Homo sapiens: one gene and its partners. The protein of the gene in region 1 purifies or fractionates together with the protein of each later gene. This does not show direct contact. Each region holds a gene or a part of one and is shown in the gene's direction. Other genes may lie near its edges. The genes, in order: ZC3H8, SRFBP1, TUBA8, LIN28B and RNF10.

What was found.
Region 2: the proteins of ZC3H8 (region 1) and SRFBP1 purify together in Homo sapiens (co-immunoprecipitation; one large-scale study listed by IntAct). This does not show direct contact.
Region 3: the proteins of ZC3H8 (region 1) and TUBA8 purify together in Homo sapiens (affinity purification with mass spectrometry; 3 studies listed by BioGRID and IntAct, with this or other methods). This does not show direct contact.
Region 4: the proteins of ZC3H8 (region 1) and LIN28B purify together in Homo sapiens (co-immunoprecipitation; 2 studies listed by BioGRID and IntAct, with this or other methods). This does not show direct contact.
Region 5: the proteins of ZC3H8 (region 1) and RNF10 purify together in Homo sapiens (co-immunoprecipitation; one large-scale study listed by IntAct). This does not show direct contact.

What each region holds. Positions count from the first base shown.
Region 1 is NC_000002.12:112,238,022-112,241,550, reverse strand, and holds part of ZC3H8 (zinc finger CCCH domain-containing protein 8), read left to right. Parts: intron 1-2,297; exon of another isoform or gene 2,298-2,430; intron 2,431-3,022; coding exon 3,023-3,236; intron 3,237-3,529.
Region 2 is NC_000005.10:121,964,975-121,968,474, forward strand, and holds part of SRFBP1 (serum response factor-binding protein 1), read left to right. Parts: intron 1-3,500. UniProt on the Homo sapiens protein: May be involved in regulating transcriptional activation of cardiac genes during the aging process. May play a role in biosynthesis and/or processing of SLC2A4 in adipose cells.
Region 3 is NC_000022.11:18,130,021-18,132,261, forward strand, and holds the end of TUBA8 (tubulin alpha-8 chain), read left to right. Parts: intron 1-822; coding exon 823-1,116; 3' UTR 1,117-1,712; downstream 1,713-2,241.
Region 4 is NC_000006.12:105,075,585-105,079,113, forward strand, and holds part of LIN28B (protein lin-28 homolog B), read left to right. Parts: intron 1-2,829; coding exon 2,830-3,199; 3' UTR 3,200-3,529. UniProt on the Homo sapiens protein: Suppressor of microRNA (miRNA) biogenesis, including that of let-7 and possibly of miR107, miR-143 and miR-200c.
Region 5 is NC_000012.12:120,558,348-120,561,876, forward strand, and holds part of RNF10 (E3 ubiquitin-protein ligase RNF10), read left to right. Parts: intron 1-2,378; coding exon 2,379-2,539; intron 2,540-3,529. UniProt on the Homo sapiens protein: E3 ubiquitin-protein ligase that catalyzes monoubiquitination of 40S ribosomal proteins RPS2/us5 and RPS3/us3 in response to ribosome stalling.

The sequences.
Region 1 (3,529 bases):
GAGGTTGATGAAAATAATATGTGGTTTTCTTCTCATTCAAGTTCACTGAATTTTCTGAATTCAAGTTCACTGAATTTTCTGAATTCAATCCATAGGCCCTTGAGGGGGGGGTCTCTGGACAGCAGGGTGAGAACCCCTGCTTTATGGTGAGTAGGATGGAGTATTTTTCTAGTAGGGGTTGCTCCCAAATGCCAGCCCATGGAAGATTTAGTACCTCCATGTGGGTGGTCGTAGTACCCACATCTTAGCTTTTACCAGACATTCTATTCCATTTCTTTGGATAACAGCCTTCTCTTTTTTTCCTAGGGAAAGTACCTGGGTGGTTGTGTTCTGGAGAGGGAGAGGGCAGAGAGAATTTGTTGTAACAGCTTTGTCTGTTTTTTGTAGAATTTTAATTCATTCTCATTTATAGCCCCATTTCTCACACTGTACCTAAGCCCACCCTTTAGAGCATAACTTCCTTTTTGTCTATCAGAAATTTGACTCTTAATTCCTGATGAATGCACTTCATGCCTCCCATACACACACACACACACACACAAAACACAACACACATACACACGCGCACACACACACACACACACACACACACACACACTGTTACCTGTACTTTAATTTTGGAGGTTTCTGGAGGCCATACTAGTTCAGTAAACCATCTTGAATAAAAAAAGTTATTTAGACTCTTACAAAAGGAGAAAGGGGATGTAATCATGTTCGTATGCTTTTTAAATTATACAAAAAACAACAAACTGAAGCAATGAGTTTATAGCTAGCTAAGTGAAGAAAAGTATTCAATTATTTGTATTTTATATATTTCAATGCCCTCTGAAAAGAATCATTAGTAATATTTATCCCTACTGTATAATAAAACAGCAAAATTGATGATTGTCCTGGCTTTATTAATGTTGCCAGATTGTTTCATGTCTTCATTTAATGTAAGTCCAACGTATTATTACTTGTCGTAAAAGGAGTCTGCTTCAATACTGTAGGCCTATGTGTTTTGTGCAGACAGAGGGAACTTAATCACTCATTTGGATCATTTTAATATTTTGATTCAGATGCACTGAAGAAAATCTCACCTCTATGTATTTGATTAAGCTAAACTTCATAGGAGCTGCTGCATACTGAATAATCTTTTTGGTTCCCCCATGCCTACTAAATAAAATTAAAGGCCAAAACCAAGGTAAACATAATCTATCACAGGAGTCGGCCAACCTTTTCATAAAGGATCAGTTAGTGAATCTTTTCACCTTTGTAGGCCATGTTGTCTCTGTCACAACTAAGACAATATGTAAATGAATGGATGTAATTGGTGTTACAGTAAAACTGTATTTACAGAAACAGGTGGTGAAGCTGAAAATTTGCCAACCCCTGATCTATCAGTCCAGAAGTTACATTTACAAGTTTATTCTATGGTGTTAATGGGGAAAAGGCACTCTTTCTTGAAGACCTAGAGACAAGAAGTTTGGTGGCCTGAAGATAATTGGTTGATAGTCTTGTCTGGTGTAGGGAAGATAAGGTATAATTGAGGCCATTGTCAGATCAAGAAACTTCCTCAGCTTGTTTGGATTCTTTAAGCAGGGAGCAAGTTCATTTTCTAGGCTTATAATCAATCCTCTGGTGGAACAACTCCTAACTTTGAAGTTAACCATCAGAAGTAAACTGTTGCCGGGCATGGTGGCTCATGGCTGTAATCCTAGCACTTTGGGAGGCCGAGGCAGGCGGATCACTTGAGGTCAGCAGTTCAGGACCAGCCTGGCCAATAGGGTGAAACCCTGTCTCTATCAAAAATACAAAAATTAGCTGAGCATGGTGGTGCATGCCTGTAGTCCCAGCTACTCGGGAGGCTGAGGCAAGGGAATCGCTTGAGCCTGGGAGGCAGAGGTTGCAGTGAGCCAAGATCGTGCCACTGCACTCCAGCCTGGGCAATAGAGTGAGAATCCATCAAAAAAAAAAAAAAAAAAAAAAAAAGTAAACTGTTAAATTGGGCCACCTAATATATTTTATAATAGCGATTCTTCTGTTTTGTTTTTTGTCTGTTTGTTTTGAGTTTGCTTCTTAGTTATCATGTGAAAGCAAATAAGAGACCAGGCCCCAAAGTATGCTTTGAAACAAAATCATTATCCACTGTAATGATAGGCATGCCATTTCTTCGTGACATCAGAATAGGAGCCCTTTGATACTTGGTCATTTTTTAAAAATAAACTTTCTGATTAAAATGTGTCATACATACTAATTATAATGATACAGTTTAATATACCTGTGTCACCAAGTGTAGAAACACATGTAACCAATACCTGAAAATTTTTATGCAGAAATTGCTTTAAGTCATTGCTGTCATCAGCCTGGGCTCCTCTAGGATTAGCTCCCATGCCTGGGTTCTTCACCCTTGCCTTGGGCACGTGCAACAACAGAGTTAGGAAACTCTTTCTGCAAGTAAAGTTAACTTGATTACAGAGAATAGGGTAGTTCTTTATTCCTTGTCATCATTGCTGCTACCACTTCTGTGAGTTATAGGAGAAAGACTAGACTTTGGTAGCTTAGATGTATCTTAAGTGTAAGTGGGTTTTCATATGGACCATTACAGTTTACTTGGGGTGTTTTACAAAATGATAAATTATTGAAGACATTTAAAAGTACTGTCAATGCAAAGGCAGAAATGTAATGTGTGAACTGTAATACTGTAATCCTCTCATATCAAATAATTAAGATTTAGGGGTTTAGACTTTTAATTCAGTCAAAGGCACACAATGTACAAATTTAGAATTTTCCCTCAAATCATCTTTAAGGATAGATATGTCATAGTGGTTTGTTAGTTTGTTTTTAATTCTGGAAATTTTTTCTTTTTTTTAATTCTGGAAATTTTCAAATATATGAGTGGAGAGAATAGTATATGAATCCCATGTACCTATTACCCACCTTCAACAATGACCAGTTTATAGCCAATCTTGTTTCTTCTGTATAGCCAGATTGTTTTGAATCATGCTAGGTTTTTAAAATTGAAGTTTTAATTTTTACTTAGTTTAGACACTCTGCAATATCACCAAAAAGTTCGCTGCATAGAAAATCAAGAAGTAAGGACTATGATGTATATAGTGATAATGATATCTGCAGTCAGGAATCAGAAGATAATTTTGCCAAAGAGCTTCAACAGTACATACAAGCCAGAGAAATGGCAAATGCTGCTCAACCTGAAGAATCTACAAAGAAAGAAGGAGTAAAAGATACCCCACAGGGTAAGAGTCAAACTATTTTATCATTTAAAGTTTATCTAGAGAAGCAGTCACAGTTGTCCATATACGGACAGAGGATTTTTCTTTGCACTTTATCTTATGATAAGACTATGGTTTTCATGAATATTTATACCAGACATGAGCTTGCATGGCCAGAGACCCCATCTGAGACCTGGCCACTTGGTGCATTAAATGCTTAGTTTGTAGAGGGAGCTGGAGGATGGAGGTGGGTTATCAAAGGCCCTGACTATTTCTAAAGGGAGAATGCTAAAGCCCTGGCCTCTGCATGTGTGAAG
Region 2 (3,500 bases), on another chromosome or scaffold:
GCTGCATAAATGACTTCTTTTGAGAAGTGTCTGTTCATGTCCTTCGCCCACTTTTTGATGGGGTTGTTTTTTTCTTGTAAATTTGTTTAAGTTCTTTGTAGATTTTGGATATTAACCCTTTGTCCGATGGATAGATTGCAAAAATTTTCTCCCATTCTGTAGGTTGCATGTTCACTCTGATGATAGTTGCTTTTGCTGTGAAGAAGCTCTTTAGTTTAATTAGATCCCATTTGTCATTTTTGGCTTTTGTTGCCATTGCTTTTGGTGTTTTAGTCATGTAGTCTTTGTCCATGCCTCAGTCCTGAATGGTATTGCCTAGGTTTTCTTCTAGGGTTTTTATGGTTTTAGGTCTGACGTTTAAGTCTTTAATCCATCTTGAGTTAATTTTTGTATAAGGTGTAAGGAAGGGGTCCAGTTTCAGTTTTCTGCATATGGCTACCCAGTTTTCCCAACACCATCTATTAAATAGGGAATCATTTCCCCATTGCTTGTTTTTGTCAGGTTTGTCAAAGATCAGATGTTTGTAGATGTGTGGTGTTGTTTCTGAGGCCTCTGTTCTGTTCCATTGGTCTATATATCTGTTTTGGTACCAGTACCATGCTGTTTTGGTTACTATAGCCTTGTATTATAGTTTGAAGTCAGGTAGCATGATGCCTCCAGCTTTGTCCCTTTTACTTAGGATTGTCTTGGCTATGCAGGCTCTTTTTTGATTCCATATGAACTTTAAAGTAGTTTTTTCCAATTCTGTGAAGAAAGTCAATGGTAGCTTGATGGGGATAGCTTTAAATCTATAAATTACTTTGGGCAGTATGGCTGTTTTCACGATATTGATTCTTCCTATCTATGAGCATGGAATGTTTTTCCATTTGTATGTGTCCTCTCTTATTTCCTTGAACAGTGGTTTGTAGTTCTTGAAGAGGTCCTTCACATCCCTGTAAGTTGTATTTCTAGGCATTTTATTCTCTTTGTGCAATTGTGAATCGGGAGTTCACTCATGATTTGGCTCTCTGTTTGTCTATTATTGGTGTATGGGAATGCTTGTGATTTTTGCACATTGATTTTGTATCCTGAGACTTTGCTGAAATTGCTTATCAGCTTAAGGAGATTTGGGGCTGAAACAATGGGGTTTTCTAGATATACAGTCATGTCTTCTGCAAATAGAGACAGTTTGACTTCCTCTCTTCCTATTTGAATACGCTTTATTTCTTTCTCTTGCCTGATTACCCCGGCCAGAACTTCCAATACTAAGTATGTTGTAAAGAGATTAAGATTAAAGTTTGTTGTTATTCTTGCGAAGTAAAGTAAAAATTTATCTTTACTCTTCTAAAAAATAAACCATCACTTTTTACTCTATCCTGATGATTATTTATTGCATATTTTTGGTACTTTGAAGAGAGAATTTTTGATTGCTTTTATAGCAGCTTCCCTAACCTCCAGCACAGTACCTTGTCTACAGGTAATAAGAAGTAGGTATATAATGGGCAGATGAAAGCATGGATAGCATAACTGTCAACTAATGTTCAAATGAGAGGGAAAATCTCCTAAATGCTTTTTTTCCTCCCTTTCCATTAGAACTAGAGGAGAAATGCACAATTGAAAACAACAGTGCCATAGCATTTAGTGCGTAAATAATTTGCAAAACTAGAGCTAGATTTTCTCAAGTCATCTGTTTTCTAAAATTTAGGCAGCAGTGATATGTAAAAATCAGATTTAGGAGGTGTAGCAATCTGATGGAGTGCTTTAATTTCATAGGAAGGCCAACGGCCTATATGTACAACTGACATTTTATTTTTTTTTATTTTTTATTTTTTATTTTTTTTTTTGAGACGGAGTCTCGCTCTGTCGCCCAGGCTGGAGTGCAGTGGCAGGATCTTGGCTCACTGAAAGCTCCACCTCCTGGGTTCACGCCATTCTTCTGCCTCAGCCTCCCGACTAGCTGGGACTACAGGCGTCCACCATCACGCCCAGCTAATTTTTTTTTTTTTTTTTTTTGTATTTTTAGTAGAGACAGGGTTTCACCGTGTTAGCCAGGATGGTCTCGATCTCCTGACCTCGTGATCCGCCTGCCTCAGCCTCCCAGAGTGCTGGGATTGCAGGCATGAGCCACCACGCCTGGCCTATTTTATTGTTTGATAGCAAATTACCATTAAGCCCATTAGAAAATTGCTTTTCATTTCATGTAAGACAGTAAAGGTAGAAACTAAAGTGCCAAAGAACAAAATGAGTTTCCTCCACATATTGTAAAACATAAGAATGTCAAGAACCACGTTTGTATGCGCTTATGAAGTTACAAAACGCTTGTGTCGTGATTAGGTGCATAGTACTTTTTAATAATTTTTTTCTGAAATATTAAATTAGGGCATTTCCGTAAGAACCAATTTGTGTTTAGTTATTAAACTATTCTGGGAAGTTTTGCTAGGTGGCAGCATATGCCCAATAATGGTTAAATCGTAGATAATCACTAAGCACTCTAGGTATTTTAAAAAATTGTTGCTCATCAGAAATAAAAAGTAAAATCAACAATAAGTTATCATCCATATGATAAAATTAGGGTCCTCTTCATACAAAAATAATTTTGGCCAGGTGCAGTGCCTCACTCTATAATCCCAGCACTTTGGGAGGCTGAGGCCGGCAGATCACTTGAGCTCACGAGTTTGAGACCAGCCTGGGCGACATGGTGAAACCCCGTCTCTACAAAAAATACAGAAAAATTAGCCAAACATGGTAGTACGTACCTGTAGTCCCAGCTACTTGGGAGGCTAAGGTGGGAAGATGGCTTGAGCCCGGGAGGGGGACGGAGGTTGTGATGAGTCGAGATCACACAACTACTCTCCTGCCTGGGCAATAGAGCCAGACCTTGTTTCGAACAAAGACAAGAAACCCAATAATTTTGTTAACTATGAATTACTTCAAACGTATGGAAAATAATGTAACAGATCTTCTTATAATCTACTTCCTATGTTTAGGAAATGTCAGTGTTTTGCTATATCTTAATATTTAATTCCACCCATCTTCTTTTCTACCTCAGAGGTAATTATTCCTCTTGGTGTGTGTTTTTCTCTTATATATTTTTCACAATTTTAGTAACATACGTATCTATACCCAGTGTATAGTATTGTGTTGTATACTTTTAAACTGCATATTGTTTTACAAATTATAAATTGTAGTAGTCTCCCTTTATCCATGGGGGTTATGTTCCAAGACCCCCAGTGTATGCTTAAAACCTCAGATAGTACCAAACTCTGTCATTATTATTATTATTATTATTATTATTATTATTATTTTCTGTACAGTAATGGGCAGGTAACGGATACAGCAGAAATACACTGGATGTATGATTTACATCCCATGTGGGATGGAGTAGTACAGTGAGAGATTTCATTATGCTACTCAGAGTGGTGCACAATTTAAAATTTATGAGTTATTTATATTTGGAATTTTGGCTAACCGCAGGTAACTGAAACTGCTGACAACAAAATTGTTGGTGGGGGGGACTACTG
Region 3 (2,241 bases), on another chromosome or scaffold:
TTGGAGACCCTGCTTTTCTTCTAAGAAGCCCCAATTCCCAAAAACCTAGAGCCTGGTTAACGCCAACACCATCCCGGGGCCTTTCGGCTCTCTTTATTTATTGCTCTGGAATATCCCTGTGACCTCTTCCAACAGTTTTCACTCTTGGCAGGGAAACTTCCTTAAATTTACTCGCAACACAACTAAGAGGAACTTCAGATGACCACTTGGGAGAGAGTACACTTTTGAACAGCTTTGAATCTAGAATGCGTTTCCCTGTTACACATACACATGTACCAGACACCTCCCACCCGCTCCTAATGTCGCTCGTGACTCTCATTTGCCTACTTGCTGAGCCCCCTATACCAGCCCTGTCCTCCTTCTCTAGCCTTTGATTGCCCAGCCCTTCCCCATCTACTTTTTTTTTTGTTTTGCTTTTAAGAGACAGGGTCTTGCTGTGTCCCTGCCACTGGAGTGCAGTGGAACCACTGTAGCTCACTGCAGCCTTGACCTCATGGGCTCAAGTGATCCTTCCACCTCAGCCTCCCTGAGTAGCTGGGACTAGTAGGCATAGCCACCGGGCCTGGCTAATTTTTTTTTTTTTTTTGGTAGAGATGGGTTTTTGCTCTGTTGCCCTGCCTGCTTCCACTTTCTCTTCAGCTTCTCCCTTGCCACCTGCTGGCTTCCCCAGTCCCATCCCGCCTGTTGCATCCCATAGCCCCACTCCCACGCCCCTGACCATGACTTGAAGCCATGCCAAGTGACCAAGATGTCCCATCCTGAGTTATCCTCTGGCTGACTTGTATCTTCTTCTGTGGCTCCTCCTCTTTCTGTGTCCCTCAGGTGGGCATCAACTACCAGCCCCCGACCGTGGTCCCCGGGGGAGACCTGGCCAAGGTGCAGCGGGCCGTCTGCATGCTCAGCAACACCACGGCCATTGCGGAGGCCTGGGCCCGCCTCGACCACAAGTTCGACCTCATGTACGCCAAGCGGGCCTTTGTGCATTGGTATGTGGGAGAGGGGATGGAAGAAGGAGAATTTTCTGAGGCCAGGGAAGACTTAGCTGCCCTGGAGAAGGATTATGAAGAAGTGGGGACTGATTCGTTTGAAGAAGAAAATGAAGGGGAGGAATTTTAAATATATACCTTCCCCTTGGCTGTGTCTCTTTATTTATGCTGTGCCATTCAAAGCACATGTTCAAGAGAACAGAACACTCTCCCCGCCCCAGCCTGATTCCTGCCTTACCCAGGAGGAGGGTGCCTGGCCCCAGTACCCAGGGTGGCACGACTGGGCTAAGTGGACACTGAGCTTCATCAGGCCCTCCCTGGGTAGGAGCAGCTTTGTGTCACTAAAGAAAGTGAGGGCCACTGTCTCCGGCGGGTGAGGCTGCAGCCCAGTTTCACATGCGAGGAGGCCTAATCAGGAGTTTCAATTCCAGATCGGGCTGGGTCCAGCCCCAAAACATGGCCTGCTGGCTGGGGAGTGGGAACACTCAGAGAAAGGGGAGATCTGGGCCTGGGAAGATTCCGGGGCAGGGGTGAGCGGACGTTCACATGAGTGGGTCTATAGCCCGCTCCGGGCATCATCTAGACTTAGCATGCATTCACTCCCCCATCACATATTCCAATACACACCCTGTCCTAGGCACTGAGAGCTGGAGAGTTGGTGATAAGCGAGACGAACACATTTCCTGCCCTCATACACACATAAATAAAGTGAATGAGATCATGTCAGCTGGTGTCAAGTGAGAGAAAGTAAAAAGCAGTGGTGAGAGAGTGTCTGGGCGTGCTCCTGTGGACTGCGTGGTCAAGACAGCCTCATGGAGGCCTGGGCCGTGCAAAAGGATGCTAGGTGCAGGGAGAAGCAAGTGCAAAAGCTAGGAACAAGCTTGGAGCGTCTGCAGAGCAGAAAGGAGATTGTTTCCTGGAGGATGGTGAGAGGGGAAGAGTCAGAGAGACAAGACCCAGGAGCCAGGCAGGGCCAGAGAGCATCCAGCCTTACAGGCCATGGAGAGGAGTTTAGAATTTTTTTCTAAGTGAAACAGAAGGATTTGGAAGGTTTCAAGCAGGATATGTATACCTTATTTCTATATTCATACTGACCTTATATCCAATCCTCCCAACAGTCTCAAAATGGATATTCTGCTCATTGTGTAGATGAACAGACTGGGATGTTTTAGGTGTTGGAGACAGTAGGAGGTAGAGCTGAGATGCAGGGCCTGCCTTTCCTCCTGTCCTGTCCACCCTAACTACAATGTTTCCG
Region 4 (3,529 bases), on another chromosome or scaffold:
GAAAGCCAAGGGGGTGAATTAACTATGCAGATCAAAATGTAAGGAAACCAAAATTATATAGCATCCTTAAAAATAACTTTTATAGCCCAAATCTAATGGTAAATGCACAGATAGAGGGTAATTGAAGATCCCATTTGTGAAAGTAGAATACTGACATCAGGCTCCTGGTCAATGAGTGGGCAAAATGGTTCCCTGAATTGGATAACACAGTGCATACCACGGTGACTGATAAAATTGATGTGTCTGCAGGAGAGCCAGCCCTATTACTGAAGCCTTTAACCTATTTTCTGTCTCTTTGAAAATGAGCTCCTGAGTGGAAGTTATCCTCAAGGAAGTGAATTTAATTCAAAAGAAGATATTTTATAGATGGGCAACTTTAATTTAAGAATTCACTTATCTATTGTAGAGGAGAACTGTGTGGGAAAATATATTATTATAAGTAATGTGGTTATATTTTTCAAATATGTCATTTTTTAGTGTTATTTTGAGAACCTGAATTTTAAGCATTAGCAAGTAAACTTTATTATTTAATCTTACACTCTCTTAGAACATATGGCTGAAACAATATTGAATCTGCACTGTAATACTTTATTAAGATATGTAATTATACAATGAATAATTTAACTACAACATGTGATTTCTTGTTTTTTTTTCTCTTTTTGAAAATATGATTCAGTCTGTCCTAAGATAAATACTTGTTAATCATTGCAAAGAATAAAAGCCCATCTTATAAATTCATTATTCTAAAGTATATAAGGTAATATTGCTAACTGGAGAAGCAGGCAATAGTTACCCTAATTTTTGCCAATTAAAAAATTCACTGTTCAATTTATGCCAGGAGATAAAATACTAAATATCCTATATACACTGCTTAGTAGGTTGTTAGTACCTTAGTAGTTTGTCTATGAAATATAAGGTAGAATAAATTATTAAGTTTGATGTTCTCACACACATACAAATATGTCATCATAATTCACTTCTTGTTGTGAGTCTGGACTTAAGCCAATTTTCTCAGTTAACACTTTTTTTGTTGTTGTTGTTGGAGATGGAGTCTCACTCTGTCGCCAGGCTGGAGTGCAGTGGCGCAATCTCGGCTTACTGCAACCTCCGCCTCCCAGGTTCAAGCAGTTCTGCCTCAGCCTCCCGAGTAGCTTGGGACTACAAGCGCGCGCCATCATGCCCAGCTAATTTTTGTATTTTTAGTAGAGGCAGAGTTTCACCATGTTGGCCAGAATGGTCTGGATCTCCTGACCTCATAATCCGCCTGTCTCGGTCTCCCAAAGTGCTGGGATTACAAGCGTGAGCCACCGCCACCCAGCTAGTTAAAACATTTTGTTATTATTTTTTAAAAACATTATAACCTGGCTGGGTGCAGTGGCTCACGTCTGTAATCCCAGCACTTTGGGAGGAAGGGGCAGGCGGATCACTTGAGGTCAGGAGTTCAAGACCAGCCTGGCCAACATGGTGAAACCCTGTCTCTACCAAAAATACAAAAATTAGCCGGGCATGGTGGCACATGCCTGTAATCCTAGCTACTCCCGAGGCTGAGGCAGGAGAATCGCCCAAATCCGGGAGGCAGAGGTTGCAGTGAACCGAGATCACTGCACTCTGGCCTGGGCAACAGAGAGAGATTCCATCTCAAAAAATATATATATATAACCTGTTGTTCTTTGTGCTTCATAAATGAGATTTATGGAGTCATAAATGTATTTGGAAAATAAAATAGAAAGCTCTTAAAATATTTCATTTGGAGACAAGTCATTAAACAAATTCTGTATTTAAAATCAGATTTAACACCTTTGGTAAATATAAATTTTTCTTAGTTTCTTCCACTAATGGTTTTTTTGTTACTTTTAATATAAAATTTTAGAAGAAAATCTGATTGAACAAATATACCTCTGAAAAAATTTTCTTGCTTAGCTTTCCTTGCCAAGCTAAAAGCTGAACTTTCAAACATCTAATACAAAGCCATGTCCCCAGTGTGCATTCACATATTATGGACGGATTTCCATTTATTTTAACTTAAAAGAGATCACCCTAAAAGAAAGCTAATTTCTTACAAAAAAGAAAAGAAAGTTAACTTTTCTCATCATTGAACTAGCATGAACCTTTATTAATTCAATCTAAGTATTTAGAAGCTTTCTTTTTTTAGCACTGTTCTGATTCAGACATTTACTCTATTGCTCTAAAATTACTTGGTAATTTGCCAGATATCATCCTGACTTTCTGACTAGACTCTGACTTTCTTATATATCAAATTTCACTGCATTACTTAATTTTATACAAAGGAAAAAAATTTTTCCAGTTTAGCTGGTTTCTACAGTCAAAATAATTAACATTCAAAGAAGTGTTAAACTTTTAAATTTGGTCTAAAATTTTGCCAGTTTCTGAGTGAATTGCCACTTTGTATCATGCCAACAGCTGTATTTCTACACTCTTGTTTTTAAAACTGGCTTGTTGTTTTTTGTTGAATATTCGCTGCCCTCTAGTGGGCTTAATGGTTCTTTTAAAATGACCAGATAGTGTCAAATTTAAAGGAATCCTTTCTATATGGAAGTGATTAAATATTCTTACATGTTTTAATACTCTTGTTTTTCACTGTGTTTAGTTGTGTCTCACACAACTAAGTTTTTAACCTCACCAGAACATTTTGGTGATGATAGTCTTTGAACCAACAGTGTAACCAGTATAAACAATGATAAATGCTTTTAAGAAGGCACATTAAAATAAGCTTATCTCATTGGTAGTTTGTGTGTTTTCACATTTTAAAATGTGTTTTTGGATACATGCTGCCTACTTCTAAGATGTTTTCATCTTTTTTCCTTGTAGATGCTACAACTGTGGTGGCCTTGATCATCATGCTAAGGAATGTAGTCTACCTCCTCAGCCAAAGAAGTGCCATTACTGTCAGAGCATCATGCACATGGTGGCAAACTGCCCACATAAAAATGTTGCACAGCCACCCGCGAGTTCTCAGGGAAGACAGGAAGCAGAATCCCAGCCATGCACTTCAACTCTCCCTCGAGAAGTGGGAGGCGGGCATGGCTGTACATCACCACCGTTTCCTCAGGAGGCTAGGGCAGAGATCTCAGAACGGTCAGGCAGGTCACCTCAAGAAGCTTCCTCCACGAAGTCATCTATAGCACCAGAAGAGCAAAGCAAAAAGGGGCCTTCAGTTCAAAAAAGGAAAAAGACATAACAGGTCTTCTTCATATGTTCTTTCCTTTACCCGGTTGCAAAGTCTACCTCATGCAAGTATAGGGGAACAGTATTTCACAAGCAGTAGCTGACCTGGGATTTTAACTACTATTGGGGAACTGTGAATTTTTTAAACAGACAAATCACTCTAAGCAAATTACATTTGAGCAGGGTGTCATGTTTTATGTTAATTCAGAGAATAAGATACTATGTCTGTCAATATGTGCATGTGTGAGAGGGAGAGAGCCTGAGTCTGTGTGTGTACATGAGGATTTTTATATAGGAATGTAGACACATATATAAAGAGGCTTTGTCTTTATATATTTGTGTA
Region 5 (3,529 bases), on another chromosome or scaffold:
GTGTGTTCTCATTTGGGTGGTAAATGTGTGTGTGTAATATTTTTTTCCTAGTGATTTTGACTGTTTAAATGTTTAGCAACTTAAAACATTAAAAATGTGTATTAATTAAAAAAAAATCCTCAGATATGGGTGGATTTTTGAACCAGGCTGAAATGATAGATGCTGTAAAAGACTGATAAATTTTATTTTTATTTTATTTATAGATATATAATATAATATGTATATATATATTTTTTTTTGAGACAGAGTCTGGCTCTGTCACCCAGGCTGGAGTGCAGTGGCATGATCTTGGCTCACTGCAACCTCTGCCTCCCGGGTTTGAGCGATTCTCGTGCCTCAGCCTCCCGAGTAGCTGGGACTACAGGCGCCCGCCACCATGCCTGGCTGATTTTTTTTGTATTTTTAGTAGAGACGGGGTTTCACCATGTTGGCAGGCTAGTCTCGAACTCCCGAGCTCAAGTGATCTGCCCGCCTTACCTCCCAAAGTGCTGGGATTACAGGCGTGAGCCACTGTGACCGGCCAAGAAAACCACTTTTAGTGTCCACAGAATTTTCGTTAATGAACATACCATCATGTCATTAACCCTTTATTTGAGATGGAATCTCACTTTGTCGCCTGGGCTGGAGTGCAGTGGCAATAATTACTTTTAATTAATTAAATTCATTAAAATAATTAAAATTAATTTAATTAATTAAATTAACTTTTAATTTTAAATTATTTTTTTTATTTTAAAAAATTAACTGGGCATGCAGGTATAGTTAATTTTTTATTTTTATTTTTAGCAGAGATGAGGTCTTGCTATGTTGATAGGCTGGTCTTGAACTACTCTTTTTTTTTTTTTTTTTTTTTTTGAGACGGAGTCTTGCTGTGTTTCCCAGGCTGGAGTGCAATGGTGTGATCTCGGCTCACTGCAACCTCCACCTCCTCGGTTCAAACGATTTTCCTTCCTCAGCTTCCTGAGTAGCTGGCATTTCAGGCACCTGCCACCACGCCCGGCTAATTTTTGTTTTTTTTGTGTGTGTGTGTTGTGCTTTTTTTGTTTTTGTTTTTGTTTTGAGATGGAGTCTCACTCTGTTGCCAGGCTGGAATGCAGTGGTGCAATCCCGGCTCACTGCAATCTCCGCCTCCCAGGTTCAAGAGATTCTCCTGCCTCAGCGTCCTGAGTAGCTGAGATTACAGGCACGCACCACCACACCTGGCTAGTTTTTGTATTTTTAGTAGAGACGGGGTTTCACCATGTTGGCCAGCATGGTCTCAATCTCTTGATCTTGTGATCCGCCTACCTCAGCCTCCCAAAGTGCTGGGATTACAGGTGTGAGCCACCGTACTCCGCCTGGTGTTATTTTTTTTTAATTTTATTTTTTGAGGCAGAGTTTTGCACTTGTTGCCCAGGCTGGAGTGCAATGGTGCGATCTTGGCTCACTGAAACCTCTGCCTCCTGGGTTCAAGCGATTTTCTTACTCCAGCCTCCCTAGTAGCTGGGATTATAGGCGCCCGTCACCACGCCCAGCTAATTTTTTGTATTTTTAATAGAAACAGGGTATCTCTATGTTGGCCAGGCTGGTTTCGAACTCCTAACTTCAGGTGATCCACCTGCCTCAGCCTCCCAAAGTGCTGAACGTGAGCCACCACACCCAGCTGGCTTGGTCTTAAACTTCTAAACTCAAGCAATCTTCCTGTCTTGGCCTCTCAAAGTACTGGGATTATAGGTGTGAGCCACTGCGCTGGTCCACCATTTCTTTATTCTTTATTGTTGGTTTTACTGGTTGGTTTGAGCTTTTCTTTTTCTGTGTGTGGTTTTTTTTGTTTTTTTTTTTTTTGAGACAGAGTTTCGCTTTTGTTGCCCAAGCTGGAATGCAGTGGCATGATCTTGGCTCACTGCGACCTCTGCCTCCTGGGTTCAAGCGATTCTCCTGCCTCAGCCTCCCAAGTAGCTGGGATTACAGGCATGCCCTACCAGGCCCGACTAACTTTTTTGTATCTTTAGTAGAGACGGGGTTTCACCATGTTGGTCAGGCTGGTCTCGAACTCTTGATCTCAAGTGATCCACCCGCCTTGACCTCCCAAAGTGCTGGGATTACAGGTGTGAGCCATGGTGCCTGGCTGGTTTGAGCTTTTCTGATATTACATACAATGCTGTAACAATAAACGCGTGACTAAAGTTTTGACTACATCTCTGGGTTTCTTAGATTTCTTATATCAAGAGCAGAGCTACAGACCTTATTTTAAGACCATTGTTAAATTATTTTCTAGGAAATCATGCTAAATTACCCCATTTTCACCCCAGAGAAAAGGCTGTATTTGAAAATTCCTATTTAGCTACACCATCGTGAGCTTTGAATGTTGCATTTCTTTGATCTTGCTGGCATTCTTATAGATGAACAGCACAGCCAGTACTCCAAGTTGCTGCTGGCCTCTAAGGAGCAGGTGCTGCACCGGGTAGTTCTGGAGGAGAAAGTAGCACTAGAGCAGCAGCTGGCAGAGGAGAAGCACACTCCCGAGTCCTGCTTTATTGAGGCAGCTATCCAGGAGCTCAAGGTGAGAGGATGCATTGGAGATGCTAAACCTTTTCACTTTCTCGGCGTTCTGTGGTGAAAACCAGAAATGCTAAACCTTTTCACTCTGTCGGGGGTGAGATGATGGACGCTGGGGATTAAGTTAGTTCCATTCCACATTTAAGACAATAAGCAGAGAATGGCTAAAAAAGCCAATTTGTTTTGGGCTTTGTTTGATGACAGTAGAGAAGGTTTAACCTAGGGCTTTTAAAGCTCTTTCTAGAGCTGAAAGGAGCAAGTCAAAATGATTTTATAACTAATTGTGACAGTGGAGTTTTTTAGATTAGCTATGTTCTTAAAGCAAGTTAGAGTTCTTTGTTTTCTGGGAAAATACTTAAGATTCTATTCTAGAGGTGTTTTGAAAGACATTGTGGAGAAAGTATTATGGCCTGCCCAGTATGCCTTAGGAGTACCTGAAACGGCAAGAATTACACAAGAACAGAATTCCCTGGGTCTTTTATCTTCCACAACAGAGATTCTTGAAGCATCACAACCACTGGTTGTTAGGTCCCACTTTGAGATATTGATTGCATAGGTTAAGCTCAGTAGGCTCAGTAATTTGCATATAACAAGTTCTAGGGTGATTCTGATGGCTGCTCATCCCCAGACCACACTCCTGGAACCACTGATCTAGCTTAGAGCAATAGAAGCCCATATTTATTGAGTGATCAGCATTTGATAGGACTTGTGCTATACACATTTATCTCACTTAAGCTTCTAGTGTGGTAGATAGAACTATCCCCTTTCATGGATGAGGAAACTGAATCCTGGGTTGGGTAATTTGCTAGTAAGGGATGCAGCTGGTATTTGAATTCCCTTCTCCCTGACTCCCAAGGGCTCCTTGGGTAGAGTCCTGTGTATTTAACTTTTGCTTTCTTTCTATAATACGTTGCAGCCGTATTTGTTCAAATGCCATTACAGGCATAAGAAAGGCTACATAGAATTAGAGCTGTCCAGGCTGAGGTGGAGTTAG